Linked DNA regions of Homo sapiens: region 2 is linked to region 1. A link means that fine-mapping ties the variant in region 1 to the expression of a gene that starts in the linked region. Tissue or cell type: whole blood. Region 1 holds a variant in brackets; the other region holds the start of a gene. All regions are shown on one strand. Distances are from middle to middle.

Region 1 (8,208 bases):
CCAAGACCTGAGTATAGATCCCTGCAGCACTTCACTTTGGCTGTAGATGAACTGCCTCTCAGCAAGGGCATGGGAGCAGAGGGAGATTTTTGGCCATGGTAGCAATTCTTGAGCACCTGCTGGGCATTTCAGTCCTTTTCCCTCCCTAGCAGTCAGATAAAGAGACAGGGAAAATCTTGTGTGTGACCTCCAGCTTTCTCCTCTTCCCCACAGCAAGGCCGTGCAGAACAAAGTAGAGGGGATCCTGGTAAGTGTGTTGGGGAAGAGGGCAAGAGAGGGATGGAAATGCTGAGGGAGGAGGATGTGAGGATGATGGGCATCAACAAAACATTGATGTGGGAGAGGTAGGGTCCTCTGCCTTGTCAGAAGATAGTTGGCTTTGCAAACTTGCTGCCAGTTTGACTTTGTGCCTCTCACTTGATCTCTGTGAGCACTTGCATAGAAGCCCAGCAGAGATGAAGTCAGAGCTGATCCCCTCTACTTCCCTCCTCTCCATGGTAGCCTATAGGGCTCCTCAGAGCACCTAGCATCAAATAATTTCTTTCTTTTTTTTTTTTTTTTTTGAGATGGAGTCTCACTCTGTCGCCTAGGCTGGAGTGCAGTGGCGCAATCTCGGCTCACTGCAAGCTCCGCCTCCCAGGTTCACGCCATTCTCCTGCCTCAGCCTCCCAAGTAGCTGGGACTACAGGCGCCCGTCACCACACCCAGCTAATTTTTTTTTGTATTTTTAGTAGAAACGGGGTTTCACCATGTTAGCCAGGATGGTCTCGATCTCCTGACCTTGTGATCAGCCTGCCTTGGCCTTCCAAAGTGCTGGGATTGTAGGCGTGAGCCACCGTGCCCGGCCTTGTCAAATAATTTCTAAGGTCCTTTTTCAGTCTGACACCCTGTAAGTCAGCTAGACTTTGGTGTGGGGATCAGAGGGTCCTATATTGGGTCCTTCTTGGCCTTATTATTTCTCCTGCCTCTGTTCTCTCCTACCTCAGCAAGATGTACAGAAATTTTCTGACAATGACAAGCTGTATCTCTACCTTCAGCTCCCCTCAGGACCCACCACTGGAGACAAAAGGTAGGTTTGATAGTAGTTTTAGATGGCAGAGGTTCTGATTCTTAGAGAAAGGTTCACTGGGAAGGGGTGAGGTGAATAGGAATACTCGTAAATGCTGTCCTTGATGAAGAGGAAAGGTCCTCGCCCTGACTTGGTTTACCAGGGAAAGTTAGATTCTGGGTGAACTAAATTTGGTCCAGCACTACTGAAGTGGTAGTTTGGGAAGAACCAGGACAACTGTTAGGGTCTTAGTAATGCTTGTTCCTTTTGTTTCTGTAGCTCAGAGCCAAGTACACTGAGCAATGAGGAGTACATGTATGCCTATAGGTGGATCCGCAACCACCTGGAAGAGCACACTGACACCTGTCTGCCAAAGCAAAGTGTTTATGATGCCTATCGGTGGGTGGAGGGGTGGGTGGTGGGATGAGTGGATTGGTGGGCATAGGACCCCCTCACCCATGAAGAGCTTCCTGCCTTGATAAAGCCTGCCTTCTTAAAGGGTTCCTCACACTTGATCCCTAGGGACTCTTCGAGCCTACCCATGGCCTCCTTCTCTGAGTATCTTCCCACTCTGCTCCCCTCTCACTCAGGAAGTACTGTGAGAGTCTTGCCTGTTGCCGCCCACTCAGCACAGCCAACTTTGGCAAGATCATCAGAGAGATCTTCCCTGACATCAAAGCTCGAAGGCTTGGTGGCCGGGGCCAGTCCAAGTATCCTTGACTAGAGAGGTTGGGGGTGGAGGACCTGGGAGGAAGACTTAGGATGTGGAGAGCAAGGAGTGGAACAGCTTAACTTGCTCGAGGGGCTTGGAGATCGCCATGTGTTGGCTGCTCTTTAACTTGCATCAGATATTGCTACAGTGGCATAAGGAGGAAGACCTTGGTGTCTATGCCACCCCTGCCTGGACTTGACCTAAAGGGTTCTGAGAGTGTAAGTACCAAATCACCTTCCAATTCCACTCTTCTCTCCCAGGTAAAAGTCAGAGGTCTTTGGGGCATGTTTTGAGGGCTAACAGCCTCAGTCATTATGTACATAGCTTCTAGGTATGATGTTCCCTTCTGCCAACCCTGTAGCTGAGGCAGAGGATGAAGAGAACTTGTGGGCTTCTGCAATGGGATAGGTAGAGGCTACTCCCATCCCCAGTCTGGTCTCAGCTTTGGTCAATAGTCTTTGATCTCTGACAAGAGAGGAGGCAAGGGTTCTTTAATTTGGAGTGTGATTGGGCATGTCCTTCCCCACTTCAGCCAGAAATGGGCCCAGAAGTAACCCCAGCACCTCGAGATGAACTGGTGGAGGCAGCGTGTGCCCTGACCTGTGACTGGGCAGAGCGGATCCTGAAACGGTCCTTCAGTTCCATCGTTGAGGTCGCCCGCTTCCTGCTACAGCAGCATCTCATCTCTGCCCGATCTGCACATGCCCATGTGCTTAAGGCCATGGGGCTCGCTGGTGTGTTGACCCTCTCTTATGTCTCAGCAACCCTGAGCCACTTTCAGCTTCAGTGGCCCTCCCACACACTAGAATAGAGACACCTTGGATTTGCCCCCTCTTCCTGGAGACCCTTCTAAGACATGCTTTAGCACCCCATTTCCTGTCTCTACCAGTCAGTCAATCAGAATTGCCTCACTCCCCTATTCCTCAGTTTCCTCCTCACCTTCACTCTATTACCTTTTTGGTACCTCTGCAGAAGAGGACGAACATGCACCTCGGGAACGGTCATCTAAACCAAAGAATGGTTTAGAGAACCCAGAGGGTGGAGCCCACAAGAAGCCAGAGAGACTGGCCCAGGTAAGGAAGTCAGTGGCCCTGACTTTGCTGTCCTGGGCTGGGGGCTTAGTATATCCTTCTCCAATTGGGTCCCTTGCTTTTCCACCTCCTGTGCCTCTGGCGTCTATGTTTCCCCCAATACTCATTCTTCACACCTTACTGTGTTCCTCTCTTTACTTTTTAGCCTCCTAAGGATCTGGAAGCCCGAACTGGGGCCGGTCCTCTCGCACGTGGAGAGCGGAAGAAGAGTGTAGTTGAGAGCTCGGCCCCAGGAGCCAATAACCTGCAGGTTAATGCCCTAGTGGCTCGGCTGCCTCTGCTCCTTCCCCGGGCCCCTCGCTCACTAATTCCGCCAATCCCAGTCTCTCCACCTATTCTGGCCCCCAGGCTTTCTTCAGGTGCCCTGAAAGTGGCTACACTGCCTCTGTCTAGTAGGGCCGGGGCACCCCCAGCAGCTGTGCCCATCATTAACATGATCTTACCAACTGTTCCTGCTTTGCCTGGACCTGGACCTGGGCCTGGGCGAGCTCCACCTGGGGGACTCACTCAGCCCCGGGGCACAGAGAACAGAGAGGTAGGCATAGGTGGTGACCAAGGACCACATGACAAGGGTGTCAAGAGGACAGCTGAAGTACCTGTGAGTGAGGCCAGTGGGCAGGCTCCACCAGCTAAAGCAGCAAAGCAGGATATAGAGGATACAGCAAGTGATGCCAAAAGGAAACGGGGGCGCCCTCGAAAAAAGTCAGGTGGAAGTGGGGAAAGGAATTCTACCCCTCTCAAGTCAGCAGCTGCCATGGAATCTGCCCAGTCCTCAAGGTTACCATGGGAGACATGGGGCTCAGGAGGGGAAGGCAACTCAGCTGGAGGGGCAGAGAGGCCAGGGCCAATGGGAGAGGCTGAAAAGGGGGCAGTACTTGCCCAGGGTCAGGGAGATGGTACTGTTTCCAAAGGAGGAAGGGGCCCCGGTTCCCAGCATACCAAAGAAGCAGAAGATAAAATTCCCTTGGTCCCCTCAAAAGTGAGTGTCATCAAGGGCAGCAGAAGCCAAAAGGAGGCTTTTCCTTTGGCAAAGGGAGAGGTAGACACTGCACCACAGGGTAATAAAGACTTAAAGGAGCATGTGCTTCAAAGTTCCTTATCCCAGGAGCATAAAGACCCAAAAGCAACACCCCCATGATACAGGTCTGTGGGGAAGAGTGTTTATATCCCTACGTTAACTTTGCCTAGTAGAGGCCCTTCTTTGCACTTGCTTCTCATTTGGCTATTCTTTTCCTAAGGAAGTCCATTCTCCTCTGTACAGACAGCTGAGTCACCCAGTCTACTTAGTACCTGGTTGCTGCCTCTGACCTTTTCAGCTTGATACCCTGGGCTTTAGTGTAACCAATAAATCTGTAGTGACCTTACCTGTATTCCCTGTGCTATCCTGTGGGAAGGTAGGAATGGGCTAAGTATGATGAAT[A/G]TATAGGTTAGGGATCTTTTGGTTTTAAATCACAGAAAACCTAATTCAAACTGGCTTAAAATAAAAAGGATTTATTGGTTCATGTAACTAGAAAGTCCATAGGTAGTGCTGGCTCCAGGTGAAGACTTGACCCAGTAGTTCAGTATGTCTCTAAATACCGGACTGACTTTTTTCTCACTGTTGCATCTTCTGTAGGACCATTTAAGTCTGGGCCACTTAATGGCTGCCAGCATTCCTAAGATTACACTTTTCCCCATTTATGTCCAATCAGAAAAAGAAGGCATCTTTGTACCAGAAATCTCAGCAAAAGCCCTAATATTCACACTGATTAGGCCTGGGTCACATGTCCACCCTGACCAATCACTGTGGCCAGGAGGATGATACATGCTAATTTGCTTATTCTATATCATGGACAACACCTTTGGGGAAAAGGGTGGGGGTCAGCCTCCCCAAAATCACATGGATTCCCCAAGTGGAAACTAGGAGCAGGGAGTTGCTTGGGTGGCCGCTAACACCAGGCTACTCTTATTTTAGCTTGCTAAGTTGAGATCAGCTAGACCTGCTTTCTTTTCTCCTCAGTCTTGCATTTCCCTCAATACAAGCTGTAGCCTCTTTCCTCGTTTCTAGTCTCAGAAGGAAGGAGAGGGAAGCCATTCTCCTCTAGGGACTCTTCAGTCTCATTTAGATGATAGTCCCTTTTTTTCTACCTCCATATTAGAGATGGAGCTCCTTCCTTTTCCTGTTTCTTAATTTTTGTCTTCTCATTCCTGCTTCCCTCTCACCCTATTGCCAGTTCCACCAACTAGAGTGAAAGACTTCCTAGCCATTTCATTAAATCTATTCTGTATCCACCAGGTGGCAGCATCTTGTCATACGTGTCAGGACTTAGGACTGCGGGGTTTAGGTTAGATGTCACGGAAAAAGCTAGTTCTGTGGTCAGGCGGCACCAATGAGAAAGGAATGCAGACCCTCCAGATGTATCCTTGGGAAAAGCAGTAAACCAACTAATATTTATTGAAGACCTACTTTGTCCTCTACATAGGGTAGCTTCTGTCAGGGAATCTTGGTTCTTCCCAAGAAACACTGATTTTCTTTCAGGGAGACTTCATGTGTTCATTTATTTCCACCACAGCAGATTTTAAGAAATTATAATATGTAATATTTGATATCTATAAAGAGTATATCTAACGTGAATAAATTATGAAGCATACTAATGAGTACCTATGACCCATAACACATATACATTAAAACATTTTAAATACCATTGTGTTTGTGTTCCTCCCTAGCCTGTCCCCCGCCTCTTCTTAGCGGTAACCACTGTCCTTAATTTTCGTGTCTATTATCTGCTATAGATATTTTTTAACCATATATGTATATATAATTTTAAAAATGTGTTTAATTTTGCTTGTTTTTTAGCTTTACAGAAAATGTTATACTTTTTTTTTTTTTTTTTGAGACACAGTCTCACTCTATTGTGAAGGCTGTAGTGCAGTGGTGTGATCTCAGCTCACTGCAACCTCCACTTCCTGGGCTCAAGCAATCCTCCCACCTCACCCTCCCTAGTAGCTGGGACTACAGGTGCCTGCCACCATGCCTGAAGTTTTGTATTTTTAGTAGAGATGGGGTTTCACCATGTTGCCCAGGCTGGTCTTGAACTCCTGGGCTCAAGCCATCTGCCCACCTTGGGCTCCCAAAGCGCTGGGATTACAGGCATGAGCCACCTGTGCCCAGCTATGTTATACTCTAATAGTCCCCTGCAGTTTGCTTTTTCTCACTTACCATTGTTTCTAAGATTCATCCATGCTGTTGTAGATAGCTATGATTCATTCATTTTCATCTGCATAATATTTTATCAAGTTCATAAACCACAAGTTATTTATCCATTCACCTATCAATGGATCTTTGGATATTTTCAGTATTTTGCTATTTCAAACTGCTGCTATGAACATTCTTGTACATGTTAGTGCCTTTGTTTTCAGTAAGATTTCTAAAGAGGCTTCTACCATGGTCCTTTGGTTTATATAACCTCTAAGTTGGGAACTGTTCCCTCTTGTCTTATTCTCTGGAAGAGTTTATATCAGATTGAAACAAACTGTTCCTTGAAAGTTTGGTAAAACTCACCTGTAAAGCTATCTGAGATTGATGTTTCTTTGTGGGAATAATTTTAACTATTGATTCCATTTCTTTAATAATTATAGACTGGGCTTTCTATTCTTCTTGAGTCAGCTTAGGTAAAGTATTATTCTAGGGTTTTGTGCATTTCATGTATTTTTTTTAACACAAAATGCATATATTTCTTCTAGTTTCTTTTTTTTTTTTTTTCTTTGAGACAGAGTCTCGCTCTGTCTCCCAGGCTGGAGTGCAGTGGCGTGATCTCGGCTCACTGCAAGCTCTGCCTCCTGGGTTTTACGCCATTCTCCTGCCTCAGCCTCCCGAGTAGCTGGGACTACAGGCATGCACCACGTACACCTGGCTAATTTTTTTTTGTATTTTTAGTAGAGATGGGGTTTCACCGTGTCAGCCAGGATGGTCTCGAACTCCTGACCTTGTGATCCGCCCGCCTCAGCCTTCCAAAGTGCTGGGATTACAGGCGTGAGCCACCGTGCCCGGCTCTTCTTTTTTTTTTTTTTTTTTTTTTGAGACAGAGTCCCGCTCTGTCGCCCAGGCTGGAGGGCAGTGGCGCAGTCTTGGCTCACTGTAACCTCTGCCTTCCGGGTTCAAGCGATTCTCCTGCCTCAGCCTCCGGAGTAGCTGGGATTACAGGTGTGTGCTACCACGGCCAGCTAATTCTTGTATTTTCAGTAGAGAGGTGGTTTCACCATGTTGGTCAGGCTGGTCTCAAACTCCTGATCTCAAGTGATCAGCCTGCCTTTGCCTCTCAAAGTGCTTGGATTACAGGCGTGAGCCACTGCTCCTGGCCTTGTTTCTTTTTTATCTCTGCTCTGTGGATAGGCATATCTTCCTTTTCATTTCTGTTGTTTACTTGTGCCTCCTTTTTTGGTCTTGATCAGTTGCACCAGCAATTTATTTTACCTATATATCTTCAGATGCTACTTTGAGCTTTGTTGATCCTCTCCCTTATGTATTTGTTTTCCATTTCATTAATTATGGATCTTATCTATAGCTATCTTTTTTATGCTTTCTTTAGGTTTAATTTTATGTTCCTTTACAACATATTCATTTTGACACTTAGCCAATTAATTTTCAGGCTATCTTCTTCACTATTTTAAGTTTTTAATAACCTGTTTCTCTACATCCCACAAGTTTTTCTGTGCTGTATTTTTATTACTTAGTTCTAAAAATATTTAAATTACCTTTATGACTTTTTGACTCATGAACTATTTAGAAACATTTTATAAACTTCCAAATATCTGGAGATTTAAAATTGTATTTTTTTTTTGAGACAGAGTCTCACTCTGTCGCCTGGGCTGAAGTGCAGTGGCGTGATCTTGGCTCACTGCAAGCCTACCTCCCGGGTTCAGGCCATTCTCCTGCCTCAGCCTCCGGAGCAGCTGGGACTACAGGTGCCCGCCACCACACCCAGCTAATTTTTTGTGTTTTTTAGTAGAGACAGGGTTTCACCGTGTTAGCCAGGGTAGTCTCGATCTCCTGACCTTGTGATCCGCCCGCCTCAGCCTCCCAAAGTGCTGGGATTACAGGCATGAGCCACCGCACCTGGCCCAAATTGTATCTTTTTGATACTGATTTTTAGCTTAATCATTTGTGTTCAGAGAATGTAGTGTCTATGACACCAATTCTTTGAAATGTGTTGGGATTGTTATTTTATATTCTGTAACATCTTGGATGTCTAAATCCATTTTGTTGTTTTCTGCTGAGTCCTGTCCATGGTAGCTTGTTTACTTGTATACTTTATATTTTGGGTTTTTTTGTTTTTTGTTTTGAGATGGCGTCTTGCTCTGTCACCCATGTTGGAGCG
Region 2 (8,000 bases), 87 kb after region 1:
CACCATGCCAGCTAATTTTTGTATTTTTAGTAGAGACGGGGTTTCACTATGTTGGCCAGGTTGGTCTTGAGCTCCTGACCTCTGATGATCCGCCCACCTCAACCTCTCAAAGTGCTGGGATTACAGGTGTAAGCCACCGCACCTGGCCATTTCACATATTTTTTTGAGACAGGATCTTGCTCTGTCACCCAGGCTGGAGGCCAGTGGTGAAATCATAGCTCACTGTAACCTCAAACTCCTGGGCTTAACCCCTTCTCCTGCCTCAGCCTCCTAAGTAGCTGGGATTACCGCCAAAACCTTTATTTTAAAAGAGAATACAGGCTGGGTGTGATGGTTCATGCCTGTAATCCCAGCACTTAGGGAGTCCAAGGAGGGAGGCTCTCTTGAGCCCAAGAGTTCGAGACCAGCCTAATCAATATGACAAAACCCCATCTCTACAAAAAATACAAAAAATAGCTGGGCATGGTGGTAAGTGCCTGTAGTCCCAGCTATTCAGGAGGCTGAGGCAGGAGGATCACTTGAGCCCCGGAGGTCGAGGCTGCAGTGAGCCAAGATCACACTACTGCACTCCAGCCTGGGTGACAGAATGAGACCCTGTCTCCCCCAAAAAAAAAAAAAAAAAAAAAAACACTCGAAAAGGGTAATACAATGGCACATGTGCAAGGCAGTCACATCAACAGCAGGTTCCCCATGATGCACTACATGGGGCCAAGAACTATGTGCATACTGCCACAAAAAGAATAAAATACCTTGGCTGGGTGTTGTGGCTCATGCCTGTAATCTCAGCACTTTGGGAGGCTGAGGCTGGTGGATCACCTGAGGTCAAGTGTTCGAGACCAGCCTGACCAATATGATGAAACCTCATCTCTACTAAAAATACAGAAAAAAATTACCCGGGCATGGTGGCACGCACCTGTAATCCCAGCTACTCGGGAGGCTGAGACAGGAGAATCATTTGAACCCGGGAGGTGGAGGTTGCAGTGAGCCGAGATGGCGCCACTGCACTCCAGCCTGGGCAACAAAAGCGAGACTCCATCTCAAAAAAACAAACAAATAGACAAACAAACCTAGGAATACAACTAACCAGGGAGATGAAAGAGCTCTACAATGAGAATTACAAAATACCGCTCAAATAAATCAAAGAAGATATAAACAAGTGGAAAAACATCTCATGCTCATGAATAGGAAGAATCAATATCATTAAAATGGCCATACTGCCGAGCATGGTGGCTCACACCTGTAATTCCAGCACTTTGGGAGGCTGAGGTGGGCAGATCACTTGAGGCCAGGAGTTCAAGACCAGCCTGGCCACATGGCCAAACCCCATCTTTACTAAAAATACAAAAAAAAAAAAAAAAAAAAAAGAAAGCCAGGTATGGTGGCGGGTGCCTGGAATCCCAGCTACTCAGAAGGCTGAGGCACAATAATCACTTGAACCTGAGAGGCGGAGGTTGCAATGAGCCGAGATCACACCACTGCACTCCAGCCTGGGAGACAGAGCAAGACTCTGTCTCATAAATTAATTAATTAATTAATTAAAATTGGCCATTCTTCCCACAGCAATTTACAGATTCAATGCTACTCCTATCAAACTACCAAAAACATTCTTCAAAGAACTAGAAAAAACTATTTGAAAATTCATATGGAACCAACAAAGAGCCAGAAAAGCCAAGGCAATCCTAAGCTAAAAGAACAAAGCTGGAGGCAACTTTACCCAACTTCAAACTATTACTTAGGGCTACAATAACCAAAACCGCATGGCACTGGTACAAAAACAGGCACAGAGACCAATGGGACAGAATAGAGAGTCTAGAAATAAAGCCGCACACCTATGACCATCTATTCTTTGACAAAGCTGACAAAACAAGCAGTGAGGAAAAAGAGTCCCTATTCAATAACTGGGGATACTGGCTAGGCTAGCCATATGCAGAAGATTGAAGCTGGACTCCTTTCTTATACCATACACAAAAATTAACTGAAGATGGATTAAAGACAAGGTAAAACCCAAAACTATAAAAATCCTGGAAGACCGGCCGGGCACAGTGGCTCACGCCTATAATGCCAGCACTTTGGGAGGCTGAGGCGGGCGGATCACCTGAGGGTGGGAGTTCGAGACCAGCCTGACCAACATGGAGAAACCTGGTCTCTACTAAAAACACAAAATTAGCTGGGCGTGGTGGCGCATGCCTGTAATCCCAGCTACTAAGGAGGCTGAGGCAGGAGAATCGCTTGAACACGGGAGGCGGAGGTTGCGGTGAGCCGAAGGTTGCGGGGAGCTGAGATTGTGTCATTGCACTCCAGCCTGGGCAATAAGAGCGAAAAAAAAAAAAAGTGGGCAAAGGAGCCGGGCACAGTGGCTCAACGCCTGTAATCCCTGCACTTTGGGAGGCTGAGGCGGGTGGATCACCTGAGCTCAGCAGTTTGAGACTAGCCTGGCCAACATGATGAAACCCCGTCTCTACCAAAAATACAAAAAAGCTGGGCGTGGTGGCGGGCACCTGTAATCCCAGTTACTCAGGAGGCTGAGGCAGGAGAATCACTTGAACCAGGGAGGCGGAGGTTGCAGTGAGCTGAGATGGCGCCACTGTACTCCAACCTGGGCAACAAGAGCAAAACTCCTTCTCAAAGAGAAAAAAAAAAAAAAAAGTGGGCAAAGGACATGAACAGACATCAGACACTTTATTTTTATTTATTTATTTATTTATTTATTTATTTTATTATTATTTTTTTTTTTTTGAGAGGGAGTCTCACTCTGTCGCCCAGGCTAGAGTGCAGTGGCGCCATCTCGGCTCACTGCAACCTCCACCTCCGGGGTTCAAACGATTCTCCCACCTCAGCCTCTGGAGTAGCTGGGACTACAGGCGTCCACCACCACGCCTGGCTAATTTTTGTATTTTTAGTAGAGATGGGGTTTCACCATGTTGGCCAGGCTGGTCAGTAACTCCTGACCTCAGGTGATACACCCACTTCAGCCTTCCAAAGTGCTGGGATTACAGGCCTGAGCCACGCCCCAGCCAGACACTTTTCAAAAGACGATATACATACAGCCAACAAGCCTATTAAAAAAACCTCAATATCACTGATCATTAGAGAAATGCAAATAAATCAAAACCACAACGAGATACCACCTAACACCAGTCAGAATGGCTATTACTAAAAACTAAAAAAATAACAGATGCTGGCAAGGTTGCGAGAAAAGAGAACACTGTTCTATCGTTGGTGCAAGTGTAAATTAGTTCAATCACTGGGAATCACTTGAACCAGGGAGGCGGAGGCTGCAGTGAGCCAGACTGGGCCACTGCACTCCAGTCCGGGAGACAGAGCGAGACCGTCTCAAAAAAAAATTATTCATCGTTTATCTGAAACTCAAATTTCACTGGGCATCCTGTATGTTATCTGGCAATGCTATGCTCCCCCGAGAAAATAAAAAGAAGAAATCTCATAGGTGCCTGTTTCACCCAATCGGTGATTTGTGTTCGTCAACTATTCTGTATTACATTCAGTGATTACACTTAGAAGGAACTCTTGAAACCCTGCAAAAATTTATGTCCTCCTCTTCTAATGTGACTCGTAATAGGTACTCAGCCCAAGCCTGAAACTGACAAAGAGAGCTACCTCACCGGATAAAGCCTTTGTGTCAGACAGCCGTGGGTTTAAATCTTGACTCCACCACTTAACTAGCTGTATGATTTTGGACAAATCACTTAAAATCGCTGAGACTCGGTATCCTGAACCGTAAAATGGAGAGATAATTTACCTTAAGGTGTGGTTGTGAGGTATAAGTGAGATAAACAAAATGACTGATACATAAAAAGCAATCTGTAAATGGTACCTTTGAAGATGATACAGGGAAAGGTAATGAAGTTAGAGACGAGGGAATGGGGAGAGGAAGGGATTAATAATCTATTTTCCTAATAGACGTTATTTTGCAAAGAAAGGAGGGCAGAAAACTATTACGATGAGTCCGAAAAGCAGAACTGTAGCTAAAGACAGACCCGGGCTGCTCTAGAGAAGACGGCGCTAGAACAGAGAAAGGAAGCAGGAATGACCAGTCAATGACCGTCCCCCTGGGGGTAACAGTGGTAACCCGGGACTATCCGCCACTCCAGGGCCCCGGGATGACTCAGGGAGTCCAGCGGGCTCCTTACCTCCGGGGCCAGGGCCGCCTCTCGCCCATGAGCCCCTGGCCCCCACCCCAGGCCCTCCCTGCCTTGGCGCTACACGCGCCCGGAACCCAGCTCTGCCCCTCCTGCCCCGAAGTAGCTCCTCACCACACCATAGTGCTTTCCAACACCATCTTGCCACCTTCCTCCCTCCCGACCGGGTCTCCGGGACGGCCTAACAACAACTCCTCCAATTGGCCCGTCGCTCTTCACCAATCACAGACCTCGGCTTGGCCAGCTGCTTCCGCCTCCGTCCCCCACGTTGCGTTCTGGGAGTTGTAGGTGCCGCCAAACAAATTTGTAGGCGTCTTGAGGGTAGTTGAAGGGAATCGCGGTAACACAAAAAACAGGATCTAGCCTCCACTTTCCCTGCCATTGCAGTTCTCAGTTGGGGTTTCCCGCTGGCCGGATCTCAGGGGAGCTATGGAGGAACCTTTGAAAGTGCTGTGTCGATTCCGGCTTCGGCATTTTAAAAAAGTGTCGGGATCGGCCGAGCGCGGTGGCTCACGCCTGTTAGCCCAGCACTTTGGGAGGCCAAGGCGGGCGGATCACGAGGTCAGGAGTTCGAGACCAGCCTGGCCAGCATGGTGAAACCCTGTCTCTACTAAAAATACAAAAAATTAGCCGGGCATGGTGGCGCACGCCTGTAATCCCCGCTACTCGGGAGGCTGAGGCAGGAGAATTACTTGAACCCGGGAGGCAGAGATTGCAGTGAGCCGAGATCGCGCCACTGCACTCCAGCCTGGGGGACAGAGTGAGACTCCGTCTCAAAAAAAGAAAAAAAAAAGTGTCGGGATCGCTAATGACTTTCTACAGCCCTCAGTTCCCTGTAGAATTTTAATTCAACAAGCCCTTATACCCTTCAATTGAATTTATTTGTATATTTATCTCCTCCCTCGTTTAACTAAGGGTGGGCAACGTGCCTTTTTTTTTTTTTTTTTTTTTTTTTTTTTTTTTTTTTTTGAGACGGAGGAGTCTCGCTCTTTCACCCAGGCTAGAGTGCAGTGGCTCGATCTCGGCTCACTGCAACCTCCACCTCCTGGGTTCCAGGGATTCTCCTGCCTCAGCCTCCCAGGTAGCTGGGACTACAGGGGCATTCCACCATGCCCGGCTAATTTTGTATTTTTAGTAGAGACGAGGTTTCACCATGTTGGCCAGGCTGGTCTCGATTTCCTGACCTCAGATGATCCACCCACCTCAGCTTCCCAAAGTGCTGGGATTACAGGCGTGAGCCACCACACCTGGCCGGCAACGTGTCTTAATCTTTACAATTCCCTAAGCCCAGTACAGAGCCCGGAAAAGATTTGACAACTCAATTATATTAACTAATCTGCCAAAGAACAAACCACTAAACCGTTTTGGTTAATCAAAAATTACATTCAAGGCCTGATGCAATGGCTTAGGTTTTATAATCCCAGCGTTTTGGGAGGCCCAGGCAGGAGGATCAACTCAGGCTAGGAGTCTGAGACCAGCCTGGACAACACAGCCAGACTCCGTCTCTACAAAGTTTTATTGTTTGAGACAGGGTGTCGCTCTGTTGCCCAGATTGGAGTGCAGTGGCCTGATCTCGGCTCACTGCAATCTCCACCTCCCGGGTTCAAGCCATCCTCCTGCCTCAGCCTCCTGAGTAGCTGGGGCTATAGGTGCATGCCACCAAGCCCAGCTAATTTGTTTTTAATTTTTTGATGTGGGAGGATGGCTTGAGCGCATGAGTTCGAGACCAGCGTAGGCAACATAGCCAGACCCCATCTCTGAAAAAAAAAAAGTCTCAAAGTGTTGGGATTACAGGCGTGAGCCATCACATCAGCTGGATATTTGATATTAAGCAATTTTTTTAGGCATGATAATAGTGTTAAAGTTATCACCCTTATAAAAGTAGGCTTTATTAAGGGTTATATGTTGTATTCATAGATAAAAAAAGTATATGAAGTTTGGGATTTAACTTAATCCTCTGGAAGAAACAAATAGTTTTGTTTTTTGAGACAGGGTCTCAAAGTAAAACAAAAGAGACAAGGTCTCACTGGGCTGGAGTGCAGCAGTGGTGCAATCATACATAGCTCACTGCAACCTCTAACTCCTGGCCTCCCATCTCAGCCTCCGAAAACTGGGATTACAGGCTTGAGCCACTGCACCCGGCCACGCTGGTCTTATTTATGTTGATAATTATTGAGGCTGGGTTATGTGTACATAGTGGTTCACCATACTACTCTACTTTTGGTTTGGAAATTCCCATAATGAAAAAAAGAAGGCCAGCTGGGCACGGTGGCTCACGCCTGTAATCCCAGCACTGAGAGGCCGAGGTGGGCAGATCACTTGAGGTTGGGAGTCCGAGACCAGCCTGGATACCCCCGTCGCTACAAAAAAATACAAAAATTAGCTGATTGTGATGGTGCCAGCCTGTAGTCCCAGCTACTTGAGAGACTGAGGTAGGAAAGTCGCCTGAGCCCAGAAAGTCAAGGCTAGAGTGAGCTGAGATTGCTCTGGGTAACAGAGCAAGACTAAAAAAGAAAACCAAGGCTGGGAAATCTCAGCACTTTGGGAGGCCGAGGCGGACGGATCATAAGTTCAGGAGATCGAGAACATCTTGGCCAACATGGTGAAATCCCATCCTACTAAAGATACAAAAATTAGCCGGGCATTGTGGTGGGTGCCTATAGTCCCAGCTACTCTGGAGGCTGAGGCAGGAGAATCACTTGAATCCGGGAGGAAAAGGTTGCAGTGAGCCGAGATCGTGCTATTGTACTCCAACCTGCGCGACAAGAGTGAAACTCCGTCTCAAAAAAAGAAAAACAAAACTAATAAAGAATGAGACTTCATCTCTGAATACATCTCAGAATAGCTGAGATTGACATGCTTAAGGGTAAAATATCAGACCAGATGACGATTTCCAACTTTATTATCCTATGATTTTAATTTCTCTTTTAGTTAGAAGTTTTACACTAATAGACCCTACTTGTATCTGAATATAAATTAGAGCATATAGCTAGAGAATAAGCACTAGTCGCTGCTCACCGCTAGAGGGACCCTCTGATCATAAGAGGATTATCTACACCACCCATTCAGTAGTTTTGAGTACACTCTGAGTGACAAGGTCAGGGATGCAGAACATTTATGCCTAAAACATGTTAACCTCCAATTCCTATTAGGGAAAAAAGTTTTCTCCTTATCCAGACAAAAGGAGGACTGGCTGGGGCTGTGGGAAAATCAAATTCAAAACTTTGAGAATCTGGGCCGAATGCAGTGGCTCACGCCTGTAATCCCAGCACTTTGGGAGGCCGAGGTGAGCGGATCACTTGAGGCTAGGAGTTTGAGACCAGCCTGGCCAACATGGTGAAATCTGTCTCAAAAAAAAAAAAAAAAAAAAGAAAGAAAGAAAGAAAAAGAAAAGAAAAATGAAAAGAAACTTTGAGAATCCCCCATTCCTCTTCCAATCCAAGTACTTGCTTTTTCTTTCTTCTTTTTTTTTTTTTTTTTTTTTTTGAGATGGAGTGTCACTCTGTTGCCAGGGTGGAGTGCAATGAATGGTGCAATCTCAGCTCACTGCAACCTCTGCCTCCTGGGTTCAAGCGATTCTCCTGTCTCAGCCTCCCGAGTAGCTGGGATTACAGGCGCCCGCCACCATGCCCGGTTAATTTTTTTTTTTTTTTTTTTTTTTTGAGAAGGAGTTTCACTCTTGCTGCCCAGGCTGGAGTGCAAGGGCTCGATCTTGGCTCACCGCAACCTCTGCCTCTCAGGTTCAAGCGATTGTCTTGCCTCAGCATCCCAAGTAGCTGGGATTACAGGCGTGCACCCACCACGCCCAGCTAATTTTTTGTATTTTTAGTAAAGATGGGTTTT

What was found. PIP is the estimated chance that this variant, and not a neighbour inherited with it, causes the effect.
Region 2: it holds the start of PSMD4, and the variant in region 1 is fine-mapped to the expression of PSMD4 in whole blood (INTERVAL, PIP 0.97).

What each region holds. Positions count from the first base shown.
Region 1 is chr1:151,337,967-151,346,174 of GRCh38, reverse strand. RFX5 (regulatory factor X5) reads left to right here. Exons shown (of 11, transcript NM_001025603.2): 4 at 214-247; 5 at 987-1,069; 6 at 1,328-1,447; 7 at 1,639-1,758; 8 at 1,897-1,978; 9 at 2,293-2,494; 10 at 2,733-2,833; 11 at 2,997-5,535. The coding sequence ends at 3,989. Among named protein-coding and RNA genes, the nearest start is that of RFX5-AS1, 4.9 kb to the left of the region's middle. RefSeq lists enhancers at 1-90, 2,756-3,256. The variant A/G (reference allele first, on the strand shown) is at 4,272.
Region 2 is chr1:151,251,080-151,259,079 of GRCh38, reverse strand. It overlaps PSMD4 (proteasome 26S subunit ubiquitin receptor, non-ATPase 4), which reads right to left and starts at 4,346. Exons shown (of 10, transcript NM_002810.4): 1 at 4,272-4,346. The coding sequence starts at 4,297. RefSeq lists a silencer at 4,085-4,224 and an enhancer at 4,265-4,454.